Regions from separate parts of the Homo sapiens genome. Here region 2 is linked to region 1. Evidence: fine-mapped expression QTL. A gene starts in region 1. The other region holds a variant in brackets. All regions are shown on one strand. Distances are from middle to middle.

Evidence for each region.
Region 2: its variant is fine-mapped to the expression of SIX5 in esophagus muscle (GTEx, PIP 0.96).

What each region holds. Positions count from the first base shown.
Region 1 is chr19:45,760,562-45,775,107 of GRCh38, forward strand. SIX5 (SIX homeobox 5) reads right to left here and starts at 8,691. Exons shown (of 3, transcript NM_175875.5): 1 at 7,481-8,691; 2 at 5,789-6,594; 3 at 4,224-5,550. The coding sequence starts at 8,283. The coding sequence ends at 4,940. It overlaps MEIOSIN (meiosis initiator), which reads left to right. Exons shown (of 15, transcript NM_001310124.2): 12 at 1,118-1,306; 13 at 1,378-1,622; 14 at 2,777-2,866; 15 at 3,410-3,980. The coding sequence ends at 3,557. DMPK (DM1 protein kinase) reads right to left here. Exons shown (of 15, transcript NM_004409.5): 9 at 14,388-14,473; 10 at 12,080-12,191; 11 at 11,210-11,367; 12 at 11,007-11,104; 13 at 10,789-10,835; 14 at 10,410-10,499; 15 at 9,156-10,079. The coding sequence ends at 9,927. It overlaps DM1-AS (DM1 locus antisense RNA), which reads left to right and starts at 7,235. Exons shown (of 2, transcript NR_147193.1): 1 at 7,235-7,570; 2 at 10,929-11,322. RefSeq lists enhancers at 6,410-7,045, 7,110-7,669, 9,161-9,240, 9,401-9,510, 9,951-10,030 and 2 more and silencers at 7,411-7,540, 7,991-8,210, 8,571-9,110, 8,962-9,146, 9,671-9,830 and 1 more.
Region 2 is chr19:45,284,899-45,299,444 of GRCh38, forward strand. It overlaps MARK4 (microtubule affinity regulating kinase 4), which reads left to right. Exons shown (of 17, transcript NM_001199867.2): 13 at 2,549-2,766; 14 at 9,451-9,554; 15 at 12,778-13,056. Among named protein-coding and RNA genes, the nearest start is that of CKM, 31 kb to the right of the region's middle. RefSeq lists a silencer at 6,736-6,938. The variant C/T (reference allele first, on the strand shown) is at 8,173.

The sequences.
Region 1 (14,546 bases):
CACCGTTGGACTGCAGCCTGGGCAACAAGAGCGAAACCCAGTCTCAAAAAAGGAAAAGAAAAAGAAAAAGAAATTATCAGGGTGTGGCCGGGCGTGGTGGCTCATGCCTATACTTCTAGCACTTTGGGAGGCTGAGGCGGGCAGATCACCTGAGGTCAGGAGTTTAAACCTAGCTTGACCAATATGATGAAACCCCCTCTCTACTAAAAATACAAAATTAGCTGGGCGTGGTGGTGGGCACTTGTAACCCCAGTTACTCAGGAGTCTGAGGCAGGAGAATCACTTGAACCCAAGAGGTGGAGAATGGAGCTGAGATGGTGCCATTGCACTCCAGCCTGAGGGACAAGAGTAAGACTCCGTCTCAAAAAAAAAAAAAAGAAAGAAAAGAAAAAAAAGAAAAGAAAGGAAGAAAGAAAGAAAGACAGGGTCTTGCTTTGTTGCCCAGGCTGGAGTGCAGTGTCACCATCATAGATCAGTGCCTTGAACTCCTGGGCTCAAATGACCCTCCCACACCACCATGCCCAGCTGGTTTTTTAAATTATTTTTAAATTTAACTTAATTCAATTTCTTTTTTTTTTTTTGAGACAGAGTCTCACTCTGTCACCCAGGCTGGAGTGCAGTGGTACGATCTCGGCTCACTGCAACCTCCGCCTCCTGGATTTAAGCGATTCTTGTGCCTCAGCCTCCAGAGTAGCTGGGACTACAGGCGCCCACCAACATACCTGGCTAATTTTTTAGTATTTTTAGACAGAGTTTCGCCATGTTGGCCAGGCTGGTTTTGAACTCCTGACCTCAGGTGATCCTCCTGCCTCAGCCTCCGAAAGTGCTGAGATTACAGGCATGAGCCACTGCGCCTGGCCTATTTTTTTTTTTTTTTTTTTTTTTTTTTTGTAGAACAAGGTCTCTCTATGTTGCCCAGGCTGGTCTGTAACTCCTGGCCTCAAGCAGTCCTCCTGCCTCAGCCTCCCAGAGTGTTGGGGTTACAGGCGTAAGCCACCACACCCTGCCAATCTGAGCTGCTGCTAATGCTCATGTTATGTCCTAGAAAAGCAGTACTGGGGGGATGAAGGGGCACCACTTGTCTCCCCTCCCATCTTTCTCCCTCATCATGCCCCAGGACACAGCCTCCAAGGCCCCCAAAGACCCTCCTGAGTCCCACAGCCTGCACCGGTCCTCAGTCTCGCTGGACCACTGCTACCTCTCGCTGAGCGGGAACAGCAAGGCGCCATCCAGCTCCAGCTCCAGCTCCAGCTCCAGCTCCAGCTCGGAGGACAGCGACTCGGAGCCCCTGTGGAAGCAGCGAGAGGTGAGAGACACGGCCGCATGCCAGGGCCAGCAGGGCCTCCTTCCTCTCTCACCACCCTCTCCCTCCCCCAGGATATGCAGGCCAACCCTGTGGGCACGCCGGGCTCCAGCGAAGAGGACGAAGACACCACATGGACCCCCACCCGGCTGGCCTCACCCCTGCTGGCAGCTGAGAAAAAGGCCACGAAGGGCCAAGTAGCCAGGGCCCCTGTGAAGCCCAAGGAGAAGAAGAAAGGCCCCTGCCCACCCCAGATGAAGAAGAAGTGTGTCAACGGCTTCATCATGTTCTGCAGGATGAACCGGAAGCAGTACATCCGGTGGGTAGGGGGTCGTCTTTGGCCCTGGGGAAGGCCCTGGCTTCGTTCTCTGCCCGCAGCCTGGCCATGCCGCTCCTCACAACTGTCTGACACTTTTTCCCCCTCCGAGACCCCACAAACCCTTCGTGGACCACAGTTCTTCCCCAGAACTGAACCCGGCCCCATTGTATTGGACAGGGTCCATCCATTGTCAGCGCTGAAACCCAATTCAGGCTTTAGACTTCAGAAAAAAAGGAGTTTTTTTTGTTTTGTTTTGTTTTTTGAGACAGAGTCTCACTCTATTGCCCAGGCTGTAGTGCAGTGGCACAATCACAGCTCACTGCAATGTCTGCCTCCCGGGCTCAAATCACTGCAACCTCTGCCTCTCAGATTCTCCTGCCTCAGCCTCCTGAGTAGCTGGGATAACAGGCGCGCCATCAGCTAATTTTTGTATTTTTAGTAGAGACAGGGTTTCACCATGTTGGCCAGGCTGGTCTCGAATGCCTCACCTCAAGTGATCTGCCTGCCTCGGCCTCTCAAATTGCTGGGATTACAGGTGTGAGCCATCAGGCCCAGCAAGAAAAGAAAATGAATTGGCTTATATAACCTAGAAAACAAGGGCGGGTATAGACTGCCTTGAGACATAGCTGGTTTTAGGGCTCACACAGGCTGTCTGGAATCTTTGTCCTTTTCACCCAGTTCCTCTGTCTTCCGGGCTGGCTTCATTCTCTGGCAGGTGGGGTCACCCCAGGAGGCACAGGCTCGGGTCCTGTCCCCCACCCAAGCGACCCCGGGAGGAGGAGAGGTCTCTAAGGTTTTAAGCAAAGTCCTTGGGACTGACTTTGGTAGATCCGGTGCCAACCCTGAACCAGTCACTGCCAGGCCTGGAGCCAGGGGATGGGGAGGCCCCCCCCAAGCCACAGTGGAAAACAGCTAGTTCCTTTACAGGAAGATCCAGATGTGGGGGCCAGGAGCGGTGCCCACAGGTCCCCTGCACTCTCCTGGGACACCAGGTGCCCCCTTGTGAACAGCCGCTGAGTCCAGCTCCCTCTGCCTCCTCAGCTCCAGAGGGTGGTCTTGGAGGCCTTGTAGACCCACAAGGCTAGGAAGGGTCTGAGTTCTCAGTCAGGGTGTCCTGCAGACCTCTCCTTACCTCCTCCTCCTTCCTGTCCCAGATCCTGCCCTGGAACCGCTTCCACAGCTGCCACCAAGGAGCTGGCCCAGCTGTGGCGGGTGATGACCCAGCAGGAGCGGAGGCCATACTGGTGAGAGGCTCCGGCCCCGAGGTGTGGGTGGGGGGTGGAAGAGCCTCCCTACCCCGGAACCCTGCTCTGTCTCTGGAGCCTTGGGTGTCATGGCATGGGAGACTGGGCCGAGGAATTTGCGTGTTGCCCCTTCTTATGAAACCCTTGGGGGTGACACAGGTGTAGGGGTACCCCACCACAGCTAAGCTGGGGAACAGCTGAGCCCAGACATGGACCCCTGCCTCAATTCTTTTGCTGTCTCTGCCACACGACTTTCTCGGGGCGTGGTCTGATTTTCCTGTCGCTTGGCCACCTCGACTCCCCCGAATCCTGTCCCCTCCACCTTCAAGGAGCTGCCACCTGCCCTGGCTCCTGACTTTGAACACATCCCAGAGCCCTTGGCCGAGTCCCATCTTACTGACTGGGACTTGGTGGACCCAAGGCTCGCCCAATAGAGGCTAAAACGGTGGCCCAGGCCCCTGCGGGGACACAGGATTGGGAGTGGTACAGGGATGCCCGGGAGGCGAGTGAGGAAGCCAGGCCATCCTGCCACCGTCTCCCCAGCACCAAGGCTCGCAGGTTCAGCCGCCAGCACAACCGCATCGTGAAGCAGGACGGCTCCAGCAGCGAGGCTGAGGACTGGGAGACGCCAAAGCCCTTCTACCAGCTGCTGGCCGAGAAGGCCTTGCCGCTGCCCCCGCACCTCCAGTGAGAGGGCGGCCCCTCGCCTCGCTCCCCTCACCCCTCATGGCAACCGCGGCTCTTGCTGGAAGCCAGGACCCATCGATGAACTTGTCCCTCCTGGGCCTCCAGCCCCTGAGAATGCAGGTCCCATGGGACTGGGGAGGGGGGCACTGATTAGCCCCAACCGCTGGGCACATTTGCCTGGAGCACCAGAGTCACCCACAGCTGCCTTGATTCTCCCCCAGGCTTAGGAAGGAAACCCAAAATGAAATGCGGGGTGTCGGAAGGTGAAGTTTACCCACCCCTCTCCCCTTCCCTTCCCCACCCCAGAGCCACTCGGTTGCAACCCTGTTCATGCTCACCTCACCCTACTCCTCCCTCTCCTGTTCTATTTTTAGACTATTTATTGTTTTAAATAAAATAAAGCAAGTGGAACCTTTGTTACCAGCAAGAGAGACAAGGGCAGGCCCTCCTGCGTCCCCCTGCTGCCCCACTGGGGTGCTCCGTCCACCCTCATCTGGAGGCCTGTGGCTTGCAAGAGGCCTCAGTGCCACCCCCTCCCCAGCCACTCTGTGCATCTGAATGCAAACCCCTCTTCCCCTCGGGAGGCAGCAATGGGAAGGCCAGGTCTCGAGGTGGGCTCTGTGTTCAGCGCTGCTTTGGACAGACACTGGAAGGCACCCCAGACCCCTGGTGGTGGTGTAATCCGATAACTTTATTTTAATTGAAAATGGAGGCATAACATGTCCTAGAAAAATAAAGATTTAGGATACAAAGGAGACACAGCGGCAGGGCTGCCCCCAGGGATGAGGGAATCTTTGGTCTGGGCCGGATAATGAGGACAAGGGCTTGAGTCGAGGGGAGCTGGTGAAGGAAGACCCCCGTCTCCCCACAGCTGCCCCACCCCCCGCCCCTGGCAGGAAATGCCACACTGGGGAGGGTCTCCAGTCTCAGGGGCGCGGGGCTGCCTGTCCTCCACCTTCGGATTCCAGGCAGTTGTGACAACACCAGCTATCGGCAGAGCTATTAATAGTGTTTCAGGGAGTGACAGGGAGAGGGCTCTGGGGGCTGGAAGTCCGGCCCTGGGGCAGGGTGTTCCGCTTACAGCTAGTACCAAGTGGAGGGGGCAGGGCCCCTGAGTCAGGACCCTGAGTCCCCCACGTATATGGCAGGGCACAGCATGGGGAGGGCTGTAACAGAGAGGCCTCCCATCCAAAGGGGGATGGAGACCTGGACAGGAGGTGGCCGGGGATACAACCCCCAGCACCACCAGGGCTTGGAGAGGCCACCCAGGCAGAAGGATGTGGTGACTGGGGTCTTCAGCAACCGCATTTCTGGGGCTCCCCCCTCCCATTCCTGTCCCTGCGTCTTCAGCACCAATGTCGGGAGAGGCCACGGGGCCACACTGGGTCACAGTTCCAAGGGCTCCTCCACAGGCACCGACTGGAGCTGGGTCAGAACCTTGGCCTCAGCTTCCAACCCCTCGTCAACCTCACCCCCTGCGGTGGCCCCCAGGAGCAGCCCCTCAGGGTCGGGGTCTGGCAGCCTCAGCACGGTGTGGGGGGCCTGTGTCCCCAGCCCCTTTTCCGCTTCCAGCAGCCCCTCTGTTCCTGCGCTTAGTTCCAGCCCTGCTGACCAGACAGGCACGGCCGCGGGTGACAACATCAGCCCCTCTGGTGGGGGCGCCGGGAAGTTGGGCAGGAGGCCAGGGGAGTCAGGGGAGAAGGGCAGGCTGGTGCTGGAGGTGGTGGCAGCGGCGGGGGGTGGCTGCTGTGCAGAAAGGGTGCCTAGGGCGTGAGCCTCTGGGAGAGCAGGGCTGGGGGCCACCGGGAGGCCTCCCTCAGGCACGGAGATGGCCGTCTCTGGCTTCAGTGGCAGGGCCAGGCCGGGGGCTGGCGGCAGGACCTGGGAGACGAGCATGCTGGTGGGGAAGGTGGCGGTGAGGATGATCTTGCCCTGCTGCAGGGCCACACCCGTCACGATGGGGCTGCCAGACACAGGGTTGGCCAGGAGGAAGTTTCCTGTGGGGAGAGAGGGACCGAGCGCAGGTGAGAGCCAGGAGAGCAGGCCAAGCCAGAGAGAAGTGGAGACTGTGCAGCTGGAGGGCGGGCGGAGGGAGCCTTGTGGTGGGCCTTGGGGCACTGGGACTTGCCAGGGATGAGATGCCCTCCAGGAGCCCAGGGACAGCCCCTCCCTCTCCGAGATGACTGCACCCCTCCCCGGCTCTCACCTAGGCCTGAGGGAGGGAGATGGGGGTACCTGGGGCAGTGGCCGAAGGCAGCTGCAGGGCAGTCACGCCCACCCCGGAGTTGATGAGGTGCACATTGGCAGGGCCTGCTGCAGCTGCCACCTTCACAGGGCTGCCTGGCCCGGCTGCCAACAGCTGCAGGGGCCCCACAGCCTGGGGCAGGGTCACCACCTGTGAGGTGGGTACTACCTGGGGCAGGTTCAATAGTGGGGAGGTGGGGCTCAGGCCCGTGGGATACCCCGGGGGTGGGGAGAGCGGTACCACTTGTGGGGCAGCCACAGCAGGCACTGGCCCCGGGGGCAGAGGAAAGGTGGCAGCCGTCGGGGGGCCAGGCACCACTTGGGCCAGGGGCCCCAGGACCTCCTCTCCAAGGGCTGGTCCCGGAGCAGCCACCTGGGCCCCTTTGGTCTCAGGGGCCTCCGACTGAGCCTCCTCCAGCCGCACCTCCCCTGTCTGAGGGTCCAGGACCAGAGAGGTCTTGGTCTCGCTGGCCCCCTGAGGGCTGGGCTGCGGTGGAGGGGCACCCCCGCCCCCAGTGAGCAGCAGCGGGCCCAGGCTGGAGGCCTCGCCCAGGGCCAGGCCGTTGATGATGACGGGGCCCCCGTTGAGGAGCACTGCTGGGGAGCCGCTGGCTGCCAGGAAGCTCCCGTTCACCAGGATGGAGGAGGAAGCCGGGCAAGGCGCGGGAGGGCCGGTCCCTGCCAGGAATATGGAGCCCTGGGCAGCGGCCTCGGCGGACACTGGGGCCGCCCCTCTCTCCAGGTCCTCAGGACTTCGGCTGGACTCGTCCTCAGTCGTGGGATTCCCATCAGACTCGCTGGCCGGAGAAATGGCTGTCAGCTGGGGTCCCTTAGCCTGTGGGGCCTCCCGCATAGCCAGCCAGCTGCTCCCCCACCTTTCCCTGGCCCAAGTTTCGGTGGATCATTCCAGGGGTTATGACGCCTCTCTGAGACCACTCCAAACTCCAGGGCCTTTTGCAAGCCCTGCGTGGACACCACTGCAGAGAAGCGCTGGGGAGGGAAGAGGCCCTTGCTCTCCCCCACCTCGGCCTCGGGTCCCCAGAGGCTGAGCTCCCAGGTTGCCCTAAAAGTTCCTTGGTTGGGCGGAAAGCGGGCGAGTGGCCTGGAGAGAGGGAGCAGCAGCCGCCAGCCCAGTTCCCGGTGCCCTCCCCGCGGGGCGTCAGAGAAGGGAGAGGCCGGCGCTCAGGGTGGGAGGAGAAGGGTTTGGGTTACAGGGAAACCGGAGCTGGGAAAGGTTCACGTTTCACAACAAAGGCAGAAGACGGACCACGCCGTCCGGGCCCGGAGGGAGTGTGGGGGCGGGTGGGTAAGAGTAACGGTCAGTGAAGAAAGGGGGCTGGGAGGCAGCCCCTACGCGGAGTGGAGTGGCCACAGGCCCTGTCCTTTTTCCTCAGTCCCTCTAGTGCCCCCCGCAGTGTGATTCCCCAACACCGATGGGATTTGGGAAGGAGCTCGGAATGGAGCCGCTGGAAGAGGAGACGCGTGCGGGGAGAGGGCCCGGGCGGGTGCCTGTCCCGTCCACACTTAGTCCCCGCGCCCCGCGGGCGCCTGAGATTGTGAGCTGGTCCCGGGAGATGTCCGAGGACCTCGGCGCGCCGGCCCCAGCAGTGGGCACGGGGGAAGAGGGCTGGTGGACGGGATGTCCCCGGGAGAGCTGGACTTGCGCCGCCCGAGGCCCCTCACCTCTTGCAGGGCGCGCCGCCTCCGGCCCCGGTCCGGTCGCGCTGTCGCCGGTTCTTGAACCAGTTGCTGACCTGCGTGAGCGACAGGCCGGTGAGTGTGGCCAGGCGGCGCTTCTCGTCCGGCGTGGGGTAGCGGTTGCCGCGGTAGCAGGCCTTGAGCGCTGCGCGGGAGCGCTCCTTGAAGCAGTAGACTGTCTCCTCGCCGTCCCAGATGGTCTTGGGCAGCGGGAACTTCTTGCGCAGTCGATACTTGTCCACTGCGCCAAGCGCGCGGCCGCGGGCCCGCTCGGCCTCATGGTAGCGCGCGCGCAGGTAGAGGTCCTGCAGGAAGGCGTGGTGGGCGGCGGGGAAGGGGCGGCTCTCGAGTAGCCGGTAGAGCTCGGCGTACTCGCCCCGCTGGAAGGCCACCAGGGCCCGCGCGCGCAACACCGGGTCGCTGCCACGTAGGCGCTCGGCCGGGGGCAGTGCGCCCAGGAAGCGGCTCAAGCGGCCGGCGTGGCCCGCCTGGAGCAGCGCCTCGCAGACGCACGCCACCTGCTCGGGCGAGAAGCGGAGGCCCGTGGGCGGTTCGGAAGCGGCCTCGGGGGGCGACCCGGGGACGCCCGGGGATCCCGGGCCCTCAGCTCCCGCAGCCGCTGCGCCCGCCCCGGCCCCGGCCGCCGCCGCCGCCTCACCCTCGGCCGCCTGCAAAGTCTGCAAGAGCTGGCGCGCTTCCTCCTCCTCCTCTTCGGTCGCCGCCGCCGCCGCCACCGCCTCCCCCCCAGCCGCCGGCCCCGCGCTCGGCTCCGCAGGCAAGGTAGCCATGTTTTGCAACTTTGGGAAGTTCCTCCCTCCCTCTCTTCCTCCCTCGGGCTTTCCCCAGCCTCCTCCCCCACCTGTCCCCCCTTTTCGCCCCCACTCCCCGCTCTTCTCGATCTTCTTTCTGGCCGACCCTGCGCCCCACGCCGGGAAGGCGAGATCCAGCTCTCCACTCGGGTCTCTGTCCCCTTGTGTGTGTCCGTCCCCCTCCCGTCTGTCTGTGATTCTCCCTTTGTTTTCCCTCCGCCTCTGGCCGCGCTTTCTGCCTCCCCCCAGCGTGTGCTTCTGGCTCAGGGCCTCAGTTTCCCCATCGGGACAACGCAGAAGGTAACGGGCCGTCCAGGAGGACTAAGGGCGCGAAGCCTCCGCCCCGAGACTGAGCTTCTGCACGCCTCCGTCTCCAGGGTCCTCTGCAGGCCCCCACATTCCCCATCTCGGCCTGCGCTCCGCCCCTCGGAATTCCCGGCTCCGCAGGGGGGGCGGGTCTGGCCGGGAGGAGGGGCGGGGAACGGGCTAGAAAGTTTGCAGCAACTTTTCTCGAGCTTGCGTCCCAGGAGCGGATGCGCGTGGCGTGCGCAGGCGCAGTGGAAGGAGGATGGCCGCGCGCGCTGCCAGCCCAGCCCCCTCTTCTCGACGCTCGGTGGCACAGCTGGGCCACAGCTGGGCGGGGGCGGTGCCTCCGGGTGGCCCGCTCGCCCTCCTATTGGCCGGACGCCAAAGCCCCGCCCCGTGGCTTTTCCTCCCCCAACCCTGATTCGGCCGCTTCGCATCCCGCTAGCTCCTCCCAGACCTTCGGCCGCCTCCACACGCCTCCGGATTGGCCCGCTGCGGAGCCTCCGGCCCACAACGCAAACCGCGGACACTGTGGAGTCCAGAGCTTTGGGCAGATGGAGGGCCTTTTATTCGCGAGGGTCGGGGGTGGGGGTCCTAGGTGGGGACAGACAATAAATACCGAGGAATGTCGGGGTCTCAGTGCATCCAAAACGTGGATTGGGGTTGTTGGGGGTCCTGTAGCCTGTCAGCGAGTCGGAGGACGAGGTCAATAAATATCCAAACCGCCGAAGCGGGCGGAGCCGGCTGGGGCTCCGAGAGCAGCGCAAGTGAGGAGGGGGGCGCGGGATCCCCGAAAAAGCGGGTTTGGCAAAAGCAAATTTCCCGAGTAAGCAGGCAGAGATCGCGCCAGACGCTCCCCAGAGCAGGGCGTCATGCACAAGAAAGCTTTGCACTTTGCGAACCAACGATAGGTGGGGGTGCGTGGAGGATGGAACACGGACGGCCCGGCTTGCTGCCTTCCCAGGCCTGCAGTTTGCCCATCCACGTCAGGGCCTCAGCCTGGCCGAAAGAAAGAAATGGTCTGTGATCCCCCCAGCAGCAGCAGCAGCAGCAGCAGCAGCAGCAGCAGCAGCAGCAGCAGCAGCAGCAGCAGCATTCCCGGCTACAAGGACCCTTCGAGCCCCGTTCGCCGGCCGCGGACCCGGCCCCTCCCTCCCCGGCCGCTAGGGGGCGGGCCCGGATCACAGGACTGGAGCTGGGCGGAGACCCACGCTCGGAGCGGTTGTGAACTGGCAGGCGGTGGGCGCGGCTTCTGTGCCGTGCCCCGGGCACTCAGTCTTCCAACGGGGCCCCGGAGTCGAAGACAGTTCTAGGGTTCAGGGAGCGCGGGCGGCTCCTGGGCGGCGCCAGACTGCGGTGAGTTGGCCGGCGTGGGCCACCAACCCAATGCAGCCCAGGGCGGCGGCACGAGACAGAACAACGGCGAACAGGAGCAGGGAAAGCGCCTCCGATAGGCCAGGCCTAGGGACCTGCGGGGAGAGGGCGAGGTCAACACCCGGCATGGGCCTCTGATTGGCTCCTGGGACTCGCCCCGCCTACGCCCATAGGTGGGCCCGCACTCTTCCCTGCGCCCCGCCCCCGCCCCAACAGCCTACAGCTGTTGTTAGTCCACTCGCACGCCTCGAATCCCGTCCGAACTCGTCATTGGCTGCTTCCTAGCGGCCTGTGTTGATTGGCTGCCCGAAGATCCGCCCTCCTGCCGTGGGCCCAGCCCCGCAAATGCGCAGCTAAGCGGGTGGCAAGGGGCGGGTGGAGCGCGGGGCGCGACGGCGGAGGGGGGCGTGGGCAGCCGGACGTACCCTGGCAGGGAGCAGCAGGTGGCGGCGGTGCATGGGGCCTGGCCCCACCAGCGGGCACTGGCCCACAGCCACGGCCGGGGGGCCATCTAGCTGGAGAGAGAAGGGACAGGTGACCCGATCGGAGCCCAGCCCAGCCCTCAGCGGTGGGGCGAGAGACAGCGAGGGGAATCGAGGTTGGGGAGGTTATCTAGGGAGATCCCGGAGGGAATCTGGTGAGGCCTGAACGGAGGGAGATCTGGGGCTGAATAAAGGGCTTCTGCCCTCTAAAGTCGCAAAGACGTAGGGTGAGCCCTATATCTGGACGGGGAGACCAGGAGCCAGGGAGGGGATCTGCAGAATGGGCAGCAGGTCTGAGGCAGGGGAAAGAGAGGGGTCTTACATGGGAAGGTGGATCCGTGGCCCGGGGACTGGGGACCCCCGTGACAGCTGGAAGGAGAAGAAAGAGGCATAGGGCGCGTGGAGGGGCGAAGGAGGGCGGTGGCGCGGCGTGCCCCAGCGTGGGTCCCTTCCCTCCTCCAGGTGTCTATACACGCCCCGCGGAGCAGACGGCCCACCTCCTCCCGGTCCTCCGGGGAAGGGGACACATGAGGGACTCACCTGTGGCTCCCTCTGCCTGCAGCAACTCCATCCGCTCCTGCAACTGCCGGACGTGTGCCTCTAGGTCCCGGTTCCGAGCCTCTGCCTCGCGTAGTTGACTGTGGGGAGGTAAGGACGGTGAGTCCGTCCGGGCCGGACGAGAGGGGATGCCAAGGGTTGCCACCGGCCCGCATCCCGGCCCCGGCCCCGGCCCCGATCCCGACCTGGCGAAGTTCTGGTTGTCCGTGCGGATGGCCTCCATCTCCCGGCTCAGGCTCTGCCGGGTGAGCACCTCCTCCTCCAGGGCTTCCTGGAGCTCCCGCAGCGTCACCTCGGCCTCAGCCTCTGCCGCAGGGACAGCCGCTGGAACTGCCACTTCAGCCTGTGTATGGGGACCAGGCTTAAGGCTGCCTGTGGCTCCTGGAAGACTCAGGACTTGGGCACTGGTTCCAGGCTAGGAATCCTTGTTTATCCCCTACTCCTCCGTCCCCTCAACATTTCTGGAATCCCCATAGCTCCTGCAATGATCCAAGCCCCCTCCCTTCCCTACCTCCCTCAGCCCCATCCCTGAGTCTGGTCCTCTAAATCTACACAGGGACCAGAGGGCTGGTGCTCAAACACTAACACAACCTATGTCCCTCTGCTGCTCAAAATCCCTCCAGCTCCCTAATGCCCTCACGACAAAAGGCCTTGCTGGGTTTTGTTTCCTGCTGGCCTCTCCAGCCTTCTCAGGAATGATTCAGCCAAACTACCTTTCAGGAACAAATCAGGATTCCCACCTGCCCAAGGCCTTTGCCCTGGAGGCTCTCGCCTGACCACTTGGCACCTTTCCTTCCATGGCTTGTTTCTCCTTCACCAGCGCTCAGCTCAAAGATCGACTTCTCAGATCCCCAGCAACACACACACCCTTACTTAATGCCCCACTGTAACTACAGAGACCGTCCCATGTCTGAAGTAACCTCGTCTCTCCGTGGTTTCTGTCTGCTTCTGTTCAGGAAGTCCCTAGAGGGCTCTACAGTGCACGCCACCCGGGAAGCCCTCACCTTTTCTCTCCCAATTGTCCCTGACGGACCCCCTCCCCTCCACCAACTTACTGTTTCATCCTGTGGGGACACCGAGGGCTCCAGGCTGGGCGCTTGCACGTGTGGCTCAAGCAGCTGCTCGGCCTCCAGTTCCATGGGTGTGGGGCCTGGGACCTCACTGTCCCTGGGGAGAGGAGGAGGGAGTGGGGAGGGAGACAGAATGCTGATTCTCTGGTGGAGAACCAGAACTTCTGGCCTGTGGGTAGGGGCAGCTGCTTCCAAGACCTCCTGATTTGAGGAAGGGGAGCAGCAGAGCGAAGAGAACAGAGTCCCAGGTAGGCCAATAGCCCCTCCTCTGCTTAGGAAAAGCCCTGCCCCTCTCCTGGCCTTGGGCCCCTGGGAGCTGCTCTTTCTAAACCTTCTGCAGGGACTTGGGGTCCAGACCCCCATGTTCTAGGGTCAGCTCATCTCCTCCCTTGACATGTGACCGCTGCAGACCCCTCTTCTCAGGGCCTCAGGACAGGGAGGCCGACCTGATGGGGAGACTGCTTGGCTCTGGCCACCTCCACAGATGTGGTCCTAAGACTGGGCATGGGACCCCAAGATGGCAACTTGAGGTCAGCACACCCCACTCAGCTGTGGGAAGGGGACAGCTCCTCCCTGGGGTATGAAGTGGCTGTCCCCTCCAACCCAGCAGTCCCTCCTGTGGGAACACGGCTCAGGACCTAGCTATCCTGGACATGCGCCTGGGTTCTAATAGAGGATGGGTTCAATCCTGACCCACCGTTCAGGCCCCGCAGCGGTTCAGAATCAAGCTGGAGTTCATTAATGATAAGGTATAGTATGTGTAATGTTGTCCAGTAATAAAAGCTGACTAGAAAACCAACTGTTCTCTTAGACAAAGTAGCATGAGGAAGGGGAAAAAAACAAACCAAAAAAACACCTGTTCTCCACTATTTAAACATGTGTCAGTACACGTGTGAGCCAGGGACCACTGCCATCTGGTGAGCTCACGAGATATCAACTTCCTTTTCCTTATCTGTATTTTCTAATTTACTTGTGATAAGCAATGCATTATTTGTGTAATTAATACTTTTGTTGAGACCAGGTCTCACTTTGTTGCCTAGGCTGGAATCTATCATGGCTCACTGAAGCCTCAAACTCCAGGCTCAAGTGATTCTCCTACTTCAGACTCCTGAGTAGCTAGGACTGCAGGCACAGACCACCATGCCTGGCACGATTTTTTCAATTTTTTGTAGAGACAGGGTCTCATTATGTTGCTCAGGCTGGTCTTGAACTCCTGGGCTGAAGCAATCCGTCCACTTCAGCCTCCCAAAGTGCTGGGATTCCAAGCGTGAGCCACCATGCCCAGCCTGTAAATTAGTACTTTTTTTTTTTTTTTTTTGAGATGAAGTTTCACTCTTGTTGCCCAGGCTGGAATGCAATGGCACGATCTCAGCTCACCACAACCTCCCCCTCCTGGGTTCTGATTCTCCTGCCTCAGCCTCCTGAGTAGCTGGGATTACAGGTATATGCCACCACGCCTGGCTAATTTTGTTTTTTAGTAGAGATGAGGTTTCTCCACGTTGGTCAGGCTGGTCTCGAACTCCTGACCTCAGGTGATCCACCCACCTCATCCTCCCAAAGCACTGGAATTACAGGCGTGAGCCACCACACCCGGCCTAAATAAATACTTTTTTTTTTTTTTTTTTGAGACGGAGTCTTGCTCTGTCGCCCAGGCTGGAGTGCAGTGGCATGATCTCGGCTCACTGCAAGCTCCGCCTCCCGGGTTCATGCCATTCTCCTGCCTCGCCTCCCAAGTAGCTGGGACCGCAAGCGCCCGCCACCATGCCCGGCTAATTTTTTTGTATTTTTAGTAGAGACGGGGTTTCACCGTGTTAGCCAGGATGGTCTCGATCTCCTGACCTCATGATCCACCTGCCTTGGCCTCCCAAAGTGCTAGGATTACAGGCGTGAGCCACCGCGGCCCGCCTAAATTAATACTTTTAAATGGCCTTATTGTTATATGGCTGATTCAAAGAATTTGCATTCTTTTACAACTGATTGTAAAAGTCTAAACTTCATATTTTCCAAGTTCTGAAGTCCTGTGGCTCTGTGTACTACAGACGTAAAAGTTAATGGTTACAAGATTCTGGGAAGCCCAGTCTGTGACTCTGAGGTTTTAAAATTCAATCTAACATTTTGAAGTACATAGATCTGAAAATTTAAGGTCCTCCAACTCTGGCCTCTTAGGAGTCTTTGGGCCCAAAACAGTAAGGTTCCAAGACTGATCCTGCAACTCCATTGGCTGCCAAGGAGCAGGACCCAGGAAGCTCAAGCAGCCTCGTGGCCCCTGGAGGCCGTCCAGGGCAGTGCTTACCTGAGGGCCATGCAGGAGTAGGAGTAGCCCACAAAAGGCAGGTGGACCCCTAGCGGCGCACCTTCCCGAATGTCCGACAGTGTCTCCTGCGCAAGACACACAGATGTGAGCAGCAGTCGTCAGGGCGGGCCCCTCACTGCTTTTTGATCTTGGCTTACA
Region 2 (14,546 bases), 480 kb before region 1:
TGGCCAACATGGTGAAACCCTGTCTCTACTAAAAATATCAAAATTAGCCGGGTGTGGTGGTGAGCACCTGTAATCTCAGCTACTTGGGAGGCTGAGGCAGGAGAATTGCTGGAACCCGGGAGGCAGAGGTTGCAGTGAGCCGAGATTGTGCCATTGCACTTCAGCCTGGGCGGCAACAGCAAGACTCTGTCTCAAAAACAAAACAAAACAATTAGCTGGGCATGGTGGTGTGCACCTGTAATCCCAGCTACTTGAGAGGCTGAGGTGGGAGGATGGTTTGAGCCTGGGAGGCCGAGGTTGCAATGAGTCCAGATCGTGCCACTGCACTCCAGCCTGGGCGATAGAGCCAGACTGCCGTGTCTCAAAAAAAAAAAAAAAAAAAAAAAAGAATCCAGCCCAAGTGTTAGCTAGAATCTCCTTGGTCCACTCATCAGGATCAGGATGGAGCTCTGATATCGAGTCCAGTTGGGATTAATCTGCTGTAATGGGGGCACAGGAGGACACATTGCACAAAGTGGCTGCTGAAAGCCTGCGCTCTGACCTCCCCTCCACACTGAAGTGAGGGAGGAGAGAGGTGTCAGGGAATCTGAGACCCAGCATGAGCCCCACACGGGAAGTGGTGCTTCTGCCCTACCCCCACCATTGCTGGAGGTCAAACCATTCCCTGCCCCTGCGTCTTGTCTTTCCCACCTGTAAAATGACAGGGCGTGCCCAGAAAGTTCCTAAGGAGCTTGTGACTTTGGTATCATATGGTTAGAACGTGGTAACCTTCAGAACTCCCCACACTGAGACCTGAGTTCCAGGGATTCTCAGAGAGGGATTGCTGGCAGGTGCCAGGTATCTGTCATTGTCATTGTAGAGCTCTCAGCTTGTGGTTCTGGGACTTCTGAGCATGTATCGCTCCTGAGGATGTAACAAGCAGACCTTCTGACCCTCTCAAGTTTGAGATCACTTTTCACCCCCGGGTTCTAAAACAGTAGATTCCTAAGATGTTCCTAGAGACCAGAATTATTTTGTGTTGCTTTTGAAATTGTTCATACAATAACATCCTTGAAAATGTGTTAGTTTGGAAAGGATAGACAGTGAAAAAGTCTTCATCCAACACATATCCCCAGCTCCCAGTTTCTCAAATGCAGCAACTGTTACGGTTTTTTGTTGTTGTTTTTGTTTTGTTTTTTGACGGAGTCTCGCACTGTTGCCAGACTGGAGTGCAATGGTGTGATCTCTGCTCACTGCAACCTCTGCCTCCCAGGTTCAAGCGATTCTCCTGCCTCAGCCTTCCAAGTAGCTGGGATTACAGGTGCATGCCACCATGCCCAGCTAATTTTTGTATTTTTAGTAGAGACAGGGTTTTGCCATGTTAGCCAGGCTGGTCTCAATCTCCTGACCTTGTGATCCACCCGCCTTAGCCTCCCAAAGTGCTGGGATTACAGGCGTGAGCCACCGCGCCTGGCCCTGTTATGGGTTTTAATATGAATTCCTTTGGAGAGATTTTATTCATAAACAAACATGTAAAGAGATAAATATGGGACCGGGTGCGGTGGCTCACGCCTGTAATCCCAGCACTTTGGGAGGCCAAGGTGGGAGGATCGCTGGAGTCCAGGAGTTTGAGACCAGCCTAGACAACATGGCGAAATCCTGTCTCTACAAAAAAAAATACAAAAATTAGGTGGGCATGGTAGTGTGTGCCTGTAGTCCCAGCTACTTGGGAGGCTGAAGTGGGAGGATGGCTTGAGCCTAGGAGGCCAAGGTTGCAGCAAGCTGAGGTCACACCACTGTACTTCAGCTTGGGCAACAGAGTGAGATCCTGTCTCAATAAAAAAATTAAAAAAAAGAAGGAAACTTAAGATATATAAAAACAATAAATTCTCCCCTTTTGAAACAAGTTATAGTCCTTTGGAGATATTCATATATAAGCAAGTAGATATAGATACACACTTTTTTGCTTTTGTAGACAAATGATAACACATTGTTGACCCATCTCTTGTCTTGCCTTTTCTACTTTCCAGTCCGTCATGAAGATCATTCTGTACTGGTGCATAAAGTGCTTCCTTATTCTTTTTTATAGCTGCATAATTTTCCACTGTGGAAATACCTTGACTTATCTAGTCATTCCTCTACTAAGGGGCATTTAGGCTGTTCCCAGTCTAATGGTACAGGCCAGGTGGGGTGGCACACACCTGTAATTCCAGCTACTTGGGAGGCTGAGGCAGGAGAATTGCTTGAACCCAGGAGGTGGAGGTTGCAGTGAGCGGAGATCGCACCACTGCACTCCAGCCTGGCAACAGAACCAGACTTTGTCTCAAAAAAAAAAAAAAAAAAAAGAAGGTGCAATGAATGGCCTGTATGTGCATGATGTCATTGATTTGGAGTTTCTAAGTCAGTATATGTGCGTTGGTAATCTTGAGGTAATTTTGACAGATATTGTCAGAATGGCCCACACAGAGATTGCAACCCACGTGAGGAATTCTCAGGTTCCAACGATCCCCCAGAGTCAGTTCTGGGTTTCCGTGGTGATGCCAGCTCTAAACGGTACCCCCTCCCCCAGGTGGCCCATCCCCTGCACCCCTGCACCCCAAACGCAGCCCGACGAGCACGGGGGAGGCGGAGCTGAAGGAGGAGCGGCTGCCAGGCCGGAAGGCGAGCTGCAGCACCGCGGGGAGTGGGAGTCGAGGGCTGCCCCCCTCCAGCCCCATGGTCAGCAGCGCCCACAACCCCAACAAGGCAGAGATCCCAGAGCGGCGGAAGGACAGCACGAGCACCCCCGTGAGTGACCAGGGCTGGGGGGCAGGGCTGGGGGCGCCACCTGGGCCACATTCCTCAGGCCCTGCCTTCATCTCATTCCCCAGACGGAACTCCTTCTTACCAACTCCTTCTTCTACCCATTCATTCATTCAACAAACATTTATCGAGTGCCTCTGTTTGCCTGAGCTCAGTTTATACACTAACATTTGATGTTAGCGTATAAATTAGTGTTCTGTGTCAAAGAAGTGCAGAACGTACTCTTGGCAGAAAGGATTTAATACAGGAAATTAAGTGCTTTTAAAAATGTGGGAAAGGCCAGGCACAGTGGCTCATGCTTGTAATCCTGGCATTTTGGGAGGCCGAGGCGGGAGGATCACTTGAGGCCAGGAGTTCAAGAAGCATAGCAGACGCCATCTCAACTAAAAATCAAAAAAATTAGCCAGGCATCATGTTATGTACCTGTGGTCCCAGCTACTCGAAAGACCGAGGTGGGAGAATCACTTGAGCCCAGGAGGTTGAGGCTACAGGGAGCTGTGTTCCCGCCACTGCACTCCATTCTGGGTGACAGAGCAAAACCCTGTCTCAATAAATCAATAAATAAAATATTAATAGTAATTTAAAAAATCAGGCCAGGCACAGTGGCTTACGCTTGTAATCCCAGCACTTTGGGAGGCAGAGGTGGGCGGATCACTTGAGGTCAGGAATTTGAGACCTGCCTGGCCAATATGGTGAAACCCCGTCTCTACTAAAAATATAAAAATCAGCTGGGCGTGGTGGCGGGCACCTATAATCCCAACTACTTGGGAGGCTGAGGCAGGAGAATCGCTTGAACCCAGGAGGCGGAAGCTACAGTGAGCTAAGATTGCGCTACTGCACTCCAGGATAGGTGACAGAGTGAGACTCCATTTCAAAAAAAAAAAAAAAAAGCCAGGTGCAATGGCTCATGCCTGTAATCCCAGCACTTTGGGAGGCCAAGGCGGGCAGATCATGAGGTCAGGAGATCGAGACCGTCGTGGCTAACACAGTGAAACCTCAATTCTACTAAAAATACAAAAAATTAGCTGGGCATGGTGGCATGCACCTGTAGTCCCAGCTACTCTGGAGGGTGAGGCAGGAGAATCGCTTGAACCCGGGAGGCAGAAGTTGCAGTGAGCCAAGATCATACCACTGCACTCCAGTCTGGGTGACAGAGCAAGACTCTGTCTCAAAAAAAAAAAAAAAAAAGTCGTGGGAAGCAGCAGCAGCTTCCCCAGCTCCTCAGCTCTTCCGGCATCTACATTCGGTCCCACTCCCTGCTCTTCTGCTCTGCACATGTTCAGTAGCCGCCCCACGTGGCTGTGCCCTTGGCCTTTCGAGGCTGGTCACGGCAGGTTACTACCAGTCAAGTCCCAGCCTTGACCAGGGTGCACACAGGTGTGAGTCTGAGCCAATTGTGGGCCTAAACTTTTAAAAGTATGGGTCACCTGCCAGGCGCGGTGGCTCACGCCTATAATCCCAGCACTTTGGGAGTCCGAGGAGGGTGGATCATGAGGTCAAGAGATCGAGACCACCTGGCCAACATGGTGAAACCCCATCTATACTAAAAATACAAAAATTAGCTGGCTGTGGTGGCGCATGCCTGTAGTCCCAGCTACTCAGGAGGCTGAGGCAGGAGAATTGCTTGAACCCAGGAGGCAGAGGTTGCAGTGAGCCGAGATCGTGCCACTGCACTCCAGCCTGGTGACAGAGCAAGACTCTGTTTCAAAAAAAAAAAAAAAAAAAAAAAGCATGGGTCACCACCCACACAGACACAAAATACTTATAGTTATCCTTTACCATAAGATTTTGCTCTTTAACAAATAAGTTGGCTGGGCACGGTGGCTCATGCCTATAATCTCAGCACTTTGGGAGGCCCAAGGTGGGCGGATCATGAGGTCGGGAGTTCGAGACCAGCCTGGCCACCATGGTGAAACCCCATTTCTACTAAAAATACAAAACTTAGCCAGGCGTGGTGGTGCACGCCTGTAATCCCAGCTACTCAGGAGGCTGAGGCAGGAGAATTGCTTGAACCCAGGAGGCAGAAGTTGCAGTGAGCCGAGATCACGCCACTGCACTCCAGCCTGGGCGACAGAGCAAGACTCTGTCTCAAAACAAAACAAAACAAAACAAAAAGTCATAAAAATTAAGTTTTTAGTCAGACATGGTGGCTCACGCCTGTAATTCCAGCACTTTGCAAGGCTGAGGTGGGTGGATTGCTTGAGCTCAGGAGTTCGAGACCAACCTGTGCAAAATGGTGAGACCCCTTCCCTACAAAAAATAGAAAAATTAGTCCGGTGTGGTGGTGGCACGTGCTGGTAGTCCCAGCTACTTGGGAGGCTGAGGGAGGAGGATCACTTGAGTCCAGGAGGCGGAGGTTGCAGTGAGCCAAGATCGTGCCACTGCACTCCAGCCTGGGAGTCTCCAGAGGGAGACCTTGTCTCAAAGAAACAAACAAAAAAGTTTTTAAATACTAATTTTTCTCGTACGTTCTTGAGAACATTCATCTTTTTAACTTCTTCTTAGTGCTCTTGGTGCCCCTGGGTACTTCCAGTTTATTTTGGTTCTAAACACCCAAGGCAAACCAAGGTCTCACTGCATGGCTGTTTGCGAGGTAGGGGTGTTTCTCCAGAGGTCCTGACCATCAGGAGGCACCCAGCCGTGGTGGCTGGTGGTGTCTGGCTGTTACCAGCATTCACCAGCCTTGACCGGCTTTGACTGATTGTGACTGGCCTTCACTGGCAGTGCCTGACAGGGCCCCACTGAAGCTTTGACCACAAGTGTCCACCTGTTACCAGTGGCAGCCAGCTGTGGCCAGCATTAACCAGCCTTTACTGGCAGTGTCCAGCCATGACCAGTATTAACCAGCAGCAACTGACTGTGACCGGCTTTGACCAGCCTTGACTGGCCGTGACAACCCTTGGCCAACGGTATCTGGCTGTGACCAGTGGTGTCTGGCTATTACCACTTATGACCAGCTTTAACTGTCCCTGACTGTTGGTGACTGGCCATGACCAGCCTTAACTGGCTGTGACAGGCTTTGACCAGCAGTGTCTGGCCATGACCAGCAGTAGCCAGCAGCAACTGGCAATGACCGGCTGTGTTTGGTTTGGCTAGCTGTGACCCTGCCACCACCTGTGAGGACTGCTAGTCCAGGTTCAGGGCCCTGGACTCCAGGGCTGTGCAGAGCCCGGGGTCAGTACAGGGAGGGGAGTGGAATGTTGTGAGGGAACCCCGTGGGGATGGGCCAGGAGAGGGTGCACCTGAGGACAGCTCACTGGCTACCTAACAGCAGAAGGGCCTTGGGGAAACAGATCTTGAAGGCATCAGCTCAACTTCAGGCAGGTGGCACAGGAGGGAGGCCGGGATGCCTGTGTGTCCTGAGTATTCCGGATAAGTACAAATTCATGCCCCTTGGCTCTTCCCCAGCCCCGAGACCTGGAGCTTCACAATGCAGCCTCTGAGGCCCGTGTGTCAGAGAATGATCCACAACCCAGAGAATGGATGGGAGCGGCAGGGCCAAAGAAGGAGAGGATGAGGTGGTTAAAGAAAAAAGAAAACAAAATTGTAGGAAGGACTGGAGGAGCGGACAATGGGTGGGATTTGTAGGAACAACAGTCACAACCACACCACAGAACTGACCCACCAAGGGAGCTGCTCCTTCTGAGGCTGCCCCAGCACTGGTGAATTCAAGAGTGCATTGTTAGGCCAGGCATGGTGGCTCATGCCTGTAAGCCCAACAGTTTGGGAGGCCGAGGCGGTGAATCACTTGAGGTCAGGAGTTCAAGACCAACCTGGCCAACATGGCAAAATCCCATCTGTACAAAAAATACAAAAATTAGGGCCAGGCGCGGTGGCTTACGCCTGTAATCCCAGCACTTTGGGAGGCTGAGGCGGGCGGATCACGAGGTCAGGAGATCGAGACCATCCTGGCTAACACGGTGAAACCCCATCTCTACTAAAAATACAAAAAATTAGCCGGGCTTGGTGGCGGGCACCTGTAGTCCCAGCTACTCGGGAGGCTGAGGCAGGAGAATGGCATGAACCTAGGAGGCGGAGGTTGCAGTGAGCTGAGATTGCCCTACTGCACTCCAGCCTGGGTGACAGGGTGGGACTCTGTCTCAAAACAAAACAAAACAAAAAACCACATTGTCATGGCTGTAACCCAAGACTCAAAAACTTCATCCTCCATCAGAAGAGCTTCTTGATGCCCAGAGGGCTGGACAATAGGCACTGGGGCCCTGCTGAAGCAAAGACCTTCATCTCATAGCCTTGCCTGTGTGAGCTGAAGTCAAAGCAGGCAGGAGAGCAGCTGCTGCCCCATTTCCACCTTCCAAATCTTCATGAATGCAAAGATTGGCAGAACCCAACTTATATGCAGAACCTGAGCTGCAAAGGATTCTGGGAAATGTAGGACTTGGCTTTTTTGCATCTGAGTTCCCAAGAACAGCAAAGTACGAAAATATCCTCAACATAGGAACAGGAGAGTGGAGGCAGAGCTGGACATGGTGGCACACACATGTAGTCCCAGCTACTTGGGAGGCTGAGGTGGGAGGATTGCTTGAGGCCAGGAGTTCGAGACCAGCCTGGGCAACATGGTGAGATCCTATCTCTTAAAAAAGAGAAAAAGGGTGGAGGCAGTTTGAGAAAGTGGCCGGGACTCTGAAGCCACGTAGAGTTTGAATTACATTAATGAGCCGTGTGACCTTGGGCAAGTAACTTCACCTCTCTGATCTTTGATATCTCACTATGTGAAATGGGCTCATTAAAGAACCTGGGTCATTGTGAGGATCTTGTAAGATCTCATACGTGAAGTACTTCACATACTGGCACAGTAAGCACTCAGTGAATGAGAGCTATTGTTATTGCTAAACGAAACCCACACCTTAAGAAGGTAAAAAAGGAAAAGCAAATAAACCTCAAAGAAAGTAGAAGGGACCGGAATTGGTGGCTCATGCCTGTAATCCCAGCAGTTCGGGAGGCTGAGGCAGGAGGATTGCTTGAGCCCAGGAGTTCAAGACCAGCCTGGACAACATAGACCCTGTCTCTGCCAAAAATAAAAATTAGCTAAGTGTTGTGGCACATGCCTGAGGTTCTAGCTACTTGGGAGGCTGAGGTGAAAGGATCCACTTGAGGCCAGGAGGTCGAGGCTGCAGTGAGCCATGATCACCCCACTGCACTCCAGCCTAGGCATCAGAACAAGACCCCATCTCAAAAAAAGTAGAAGGGAGGAGGCATTAAAGAGAATAAATCAGTGAAGGAGAAAGAAGAGGTACAATAAAGCAACAAAACCTAAAGTTGGTTTTTTGAAAAGATTAATAAAATCAGTCTGGGCGTGGTGGCTCATGCCTGTAATCCCAGCACTTTGGGAGGCTGAGGCGGGTGGATCACTTGAGGTCAGGAGTTTGAGAC[C/T]AGCCTGGCCAGCATGGTGAAACCCCATCTCTACCAAAAATACAAAAAATTAGCTGGATGTGGTGGTCCACACCTGTAATCCCAGCTACTCGGGAGACTAAGGCAGGTTCACTTGAATCTGGGAGGTGGAGGTTGCAGTGAGCTGAGATCATGCCATTGCACTCCAGCCTGGGCAAAATGAGTGAAACTCTGTCCAAAAAAATAAATAAATAAATAAAATCCAATGGACCCCTGGTAAAAATCAATTAAGGAAAAAAGACAGCAAACATGAATCACCAGTATCCACAATGAAAAGGGGAACTTTGTTCTAACATTAAAAGATAGTAAGATGATATTAGGAACTACTTTGTGCCAATAAATTTAACAGCTTAGATGAAATGGACACATTACTTTAAAAACACACTGTATCAAAACTGACACAAGAAGAAATAGAAAACCTGAACAGTCTTATATTCTTGTTAAAGAAATTGAATTCGTAACTGAAAACCTTCCCTATAAAGAAAATTTTTGGCTTGGATGACTCCCACCAGTGGAATTCTTCCAAACACTTAAAGAAGAAATAACACTAACCTTAGACAAACTTCCAGAGAATAGAAAAAGAGGGCTCTCTTCCTAACATGTTTATGAGGCAGCATAATCCTGATATTCCCTGTGTTCCCAGAGCTCACAGCCCAGTATGGGATGGGGACATATATGAGAACAGACATTGACAGCACAGTGATTGAAGCTGCAGTGGGGAGCCCAGGGGCCTGTGGGAACCCAAAGGAGGAGGCACGTGACTCAGCCTGGGGCCGGGGGTGGTGGTAGATTATGAACTGACACCTGAAAGATATGTAGGAGTGAGTCAGGGGAAAAGGTAGGAGTAATGTTCTAACAGGTGAGACAGCCAGTGCACAGGCTAGTCACAGTGACAGAATGTGGCATGAATAAGTACATTAGCAAACGTTTGGTGTGGCTGGGCTGGACCTCAAGAAGGTGGGCATTGCTGGGAGAAGAGCGGTGGACAAGGATGCCCCCTGGAAACCTTCCCTGCCTCGTTTTCCCTCAGTGCCCCCCTCTTCTCCGGTCTCCAGGGGTCTCCCCTGACTCAGCCTCGGTGGCTGGGATTACTCATGAACCTTTCACATCTTTGGGACCTTTCACCATCTCCTACTCACCCTGGGTTCCCACATGAGCCCCTGACTTATTCATCGATGGGGAGGGCAGAGAAGGGAAGAGGGAGAAGCTCAGGGGCATGTCTTCACCCCCTCACTCCCTTCCTGGCTGTGTCTCCTGCAGAACAACCTCCCTCCTAGCATGATGACCCGCAGAAACACCTACGTTTGCACAGAACGCCCGGGGGCTGAGCGCCCGTCACTGTTGCCAAATGGGAAAGAAAACAGGTACGGAGGGGGCAGCAACAGGGTGAGGGGTGGGAAGTAGGGGGTAGGTGAACAGGACCTCCCTTGATCTGAGATGATAGGCATTGGAGGCTGGTGCCATGGGGACCAGAGAGTGAGTGTATCTGCCCTGCCCTTGGCAGAATCGACCCATGTACCCCCCTGAAAATCCTCCCCACTTAATTAATTAGTCTTAAGCACCAGGAAAGCAGTTGGCCCTGTTCTCCGCCTACAAGCCTTGGGAACCTGAATTGATTTTTTGAATGATCCATTTTTAGAACTCGAGAGAAGCCCCAGAATGTCACAGCTTCAGCGTCATCTGGTTGGCTGGTTTTCCGGCTTGTTGGCCTGAGTCTGTGAGGTCTCTTCCAGCTGGCAAGGGAGGGAAACCAGTTCAGACTGGCTGGAGCAGAGAGAGGGAAGGGATTGGTTCACATCACAGGTCAAGGCCAGCTAGAATGGGGCCAGCTCCAGGATGAGGACACTGCCCCCCACCAGGGCTGTAGGGCAGGTTGATGGCCAACACCAGGGCACACTCTGGGATGCACCTGATTAGTGGGTGCAGGTGTTCCCACTGGGTGTGGGCAGAGGAATGGGGTAGTTAACAGTCACAAATCTGTCCAGGCACAGTGGCTCATGCCTGTAATACCAGCACTTTGGGAGGCTGAGGCAGGTGGATCAAGAAGTCAGGAGATCGAGACCATCCTGGCTAACATGGTGACACCCCGTCTCTACTAAAAATACCAAAAAAAAAAAAAAATTAGCTGGGTGCAGTGGTGGGCACCTGTAGTCCCAGCTACTCTGGAGGCAGAGGCAGGACAATGGCGTGAACCTGGAAGGCGGAGTTTGCAGTGAGCCGAGATCACGCCACTGCACTCCAGCCTGGGCAACAGAGCGAGACTCCATCTCAAAAAAAAAAAGTCACGATTCTGTGAATACTCAGTTCTGAGTTCGAATCTTACCTCTGTGCTCACACTGCTAGCAGAATGACCGGGTAAATCCCTGTGCCTCTGTTTCCTCCTCGGTAAAATGGGCTTGATGCTGGCCGGGCATGGTGGCTCACACCTGTAATCCCAGCACTTTGTGAGGCCGAGGTGGGCAGATCACCTGAGGTCAGGAGTTCGAGACCAGCCTGGCCAACATGATGAAACCCTGTCTCTACTAAAAATACAAAAATTAGCCAGGAACGATGTCATGTGCATGTAATCCCAGCTACTCAGAAGGCTGAATGAGGCAGGAGAATCGCTTGAACCTGGGAGGCAGAGGTTGCAGTGAGCTGGGATTGCGCCACTGTACTCCAGCCTGAGCCACACAGCAAGAATCCGTCTCATAAAAAAAAGGGCTGATGCTGTCCACTTCCAGGCCCCATTATAGAGATGCAGTAGAGATCAGGTGTGTCCTGTACCTGGCACTGGGTCTGATGCTTAGGAGGCCTTCATTCAGTGACTTGAGAGTGCTTTTTTTTGGTGGTTATCAAATAACAATAGTGAACATTCATGAAGCAGCAGCTACATGCCAGGCTTCTATGTCTATTGCCTGGCTCAGTGCCCCTAACAACTCTGTGAGGTAGATCCTAATATCTCCATTTTACAGCTGAGGACATAAGGCACAGAGAGGTTAAGTAACTTATCCAAGGCCACACAGCTGGTAAGTCAAGAAGCAGATTCCAGACTTGACTCCAGAATCTTATTTGTAATCACTGTAGTACATGGCCTTCCAGTTCTGCTCAAGAGATAGTGGAACAGTTAAATTACAGACTCAGACAAAAAAAATCAAAAATTAAAAAAAAATTTAAAAACAACAAAAAATAAAAAGTATAGACTCAGCTAGCTGCTGTAATAAAAACAAAGAGATCCCAGGGTAGAGTAATTTAAATAAAAAGGACGTTTAGTCCGGAGGGTCCTCCAAGGACCCAGGTAAGTTCTTCCAGCCCCAAAATGAGTTTCCAGCTCTGGGACTGAGGCCGCTGCACCAGCAGCCATCATTTCCCAATCAGGAAGAAGTGGGGAAAGAGTAGGGGACAAGCAACAACTCTTTGTAAAGGCGTCACCCAGAGATGGTACAGAGCACTTCTGCTTATATCCCATTGGCCGGAGCATGGTCACATAACCATCTCTAGCTGCAAGAGAGTCTGGGAAATGTAGTCTCTGGCTGGGTGGCCATGTGCAGTGCTCATACTCTTAGGGGTTTGGTTACCAAGAACGAAACAGGGAGGATGGATTCTAAGGGAGAAGTAACAGCCTCTGCCACAATCAGGATTCTTCTCTGAGATCCAGGCTGGGCCTGGAGTCCCTGGGAGGATAGAAATTGGAGGTCTGGGCTGGGCGCAGTGGCTCACACCTGGAATCCCAGCACTTTGGGAGGCCAAGGCCAGTGGATCACCTGAGGTGAGGAGTTTGAGACCAGCCTGGCCAACATGGTGAAACCCCATCTCTCCTGAAAATACATAAACTACCCAGGCGTGGTGCTGCATGCCTATAGTCCCAGCTACTCAGGAGGCTGAGGCAGGAGAATCACTTGAACCCAGGAGGCAGAGGTTGCAGTAGCCAAGATTGCCCCATGGCCCTTCAGCCTAGGTGACAGAGTGAGACTCTGTCTCAAAAAAAAAAAAAAAAAAAATTAGCCAGGCATGGTGGCACACGCTTGTAATCCCAGCTACTCAGGAGGGTGAGGCAGGAGAATTGAACTCAGGAGATGGAGGTCTGGCCCCTGCTGTCGACTAGGAGGGTCCGAGGGGCTGGAGGAGGGTCCTGGGACAGTGGAACCCCCACTGCCCAGATTACCATAGTGAATACAGGTATCCTTGACCTTTACATCTATCCCTTTCCTGATTTTAGATGGTGAGAGTTCAGATAGCAAAGTGTTTGCCAAGTTGATTTGGTTCCTGAGGTTTCGGCAAATAGCAAGGAAGTCACCCAAAAATGTCTGTGCATCTATTCAGTTGCTGCGTTTAGAGAGAGGAGAGTTGTGATAGGAGATGATTTGGAGCGGGTAGAGTTTGAAGAAGGGACAGTTTGAAGGAGGGGTAATAGGAGAGGAGAGAGTCAGTAAAATAATGCTAGGATTGTATAGTGCACAGCCTGCACAACTGTACGTTGCAGCCCTGTCTCTGAGTTCCAGGCTGGTTGCAGTCCCTGGTCTCAGGACAGGAATGTGAAGAATCAAAGGGACTGGGGCCCTGGCCTGCCTCAGTCCCCCACCCTGACTTGTCTGTCTCTGCCCACAGCTCAGGCACCCCACGGGTGCCCCCTGCCTCCCCCTCCAGTCACAGCCTGGCACCCCCATCAGGGGAGCGGAGCCGCCTGGCACGTGGTTCCACCATCCGCAGCACCTTCCATGGTGGCCAGGTCCGGGACCGGCGGGCAGGGGGTGGGGGTGGTGGGGGTGTGCAGAATGGGCCCCCTGCCTCTCCCACACTGGCCCATGAGGCTGCACCCCTGCCCGCCGGGCGGCCCCGCCCCACCACCAACCTCTTCACCAAGCTGACCTCCAAACTGACCCGAAGGTGAGCTCCGCGGGGATGGCAGGGGCAGGGCGGGGCGGGGGGCCGATGGGACCTAACCTGTCTTCCACTCTGCTCTGTCTCCTGTACCCCAACATTTCCTCTTCCTCCTCCTCCTCCTCCTCGTTTCCTCCTCCTCCTCCTCCTTTCCTCCTCCCCTGTCACCCCTCACCTCCCTCCTCACACTGCAGGGTTACCCTCGATCCCTCTAAACGGCAGAACTCTAACCGCTGTGTTTCGGGCGCCTCTCTGCCCCAGGGATCCAAGATCAGTAAGTCCCGTCCATGCCCTGTTCTCGCTGGCTCTGCCTCCCTGCCTGCATGTCTGACCTGTGTGTGCGGGCATTGGGAGGGGGCTCTGTGGATGTGAGGGTCTGTGCGTGGGGTCTGGTTGTTCATTTACTCACAGAAGCACAGCCTATGGAGCCAGACTCGGGGGTTCAAATGGCAGCTCTGCCAAGTGACCTTGAGCAAGTCACTCAAGGTCTCTGGGCCTGGTTTTCCTCTTCTGTAAAATGGGTATAGTAATAACAATACCTGTCTCCTAGGGTTATTGTGAGGACTAAATGAAGTGACGTATGGACTGAGCGTAGAACATTGCCTTGGAAAGTGCTTTACATGTGTATTAGTTATTAATTGCTATTATTCATTGAGCCCCTACTGTGTGCCTGGCACTGTCCTAGGCCCTGTAGTAGAGGGTGAGCAAAATGTACAAAACTCCTGCCCTGGCAGACCCAACATTCTACTAAGGGATCTAGACAAAAAACAAAGAAATAAGTAAAATATACTTACTATATAGACTGCTAGGTAGTGCGAAGTAACTAAGAAGAAAAATAGAGTAGGAGCCAAATTTGGTGGCTTATGCTTGTAATCACAGCACTTTGGGAGGCTGAGGCGAGGGGATCACTTGAGCCCAGAAGTTCAAGACCAGCCTGGACAACGTAGCAAGATCCTATCTCTACAAAAAAGTAAATAAATTGGCCGGGCGTGGTGACTGCACCTGTATTCCCATGGAATTGGGAGGCCGAGGCAGGAGGATCACTTGAACGCAGGAGGTCAAGGCTGCTGTGAGCTATGATCATCAGTCTTGGCAACAGAGGGAGAACCTGTCTCTAAAAAAAAAAAAAAAAAAAAAAAAAATTGAACAGGGAGGGGAATAAGGGGTGTGGGGAAGGGATGGGGTGCAGCATTAAATGGGCAGGCCTCTGGATGAGGTGGCTCAGGCCAGCAATCCCAGCACTTTGGACAGATGACTTGAGTCCAGGAGTTTGAGACCAGCCTGGGCAATGTGGCAAAGCCCCATCTCTACAAAACAAAACAAAAAACAAAAAGCAGATGTGGCACGCGCCTGTAGTCCCAGCTACTTCAGGGGCCAAGGCAGGAAGATTGCTTGAGCCTGGGAGGTTGAGGCTGCAGCGAGCTGAGATCACGCCACTCCTGCATGACAGAGTGAGACTCTGTCTCAAAAAAAGAAAAAAGGGCAGGCCTCACGAA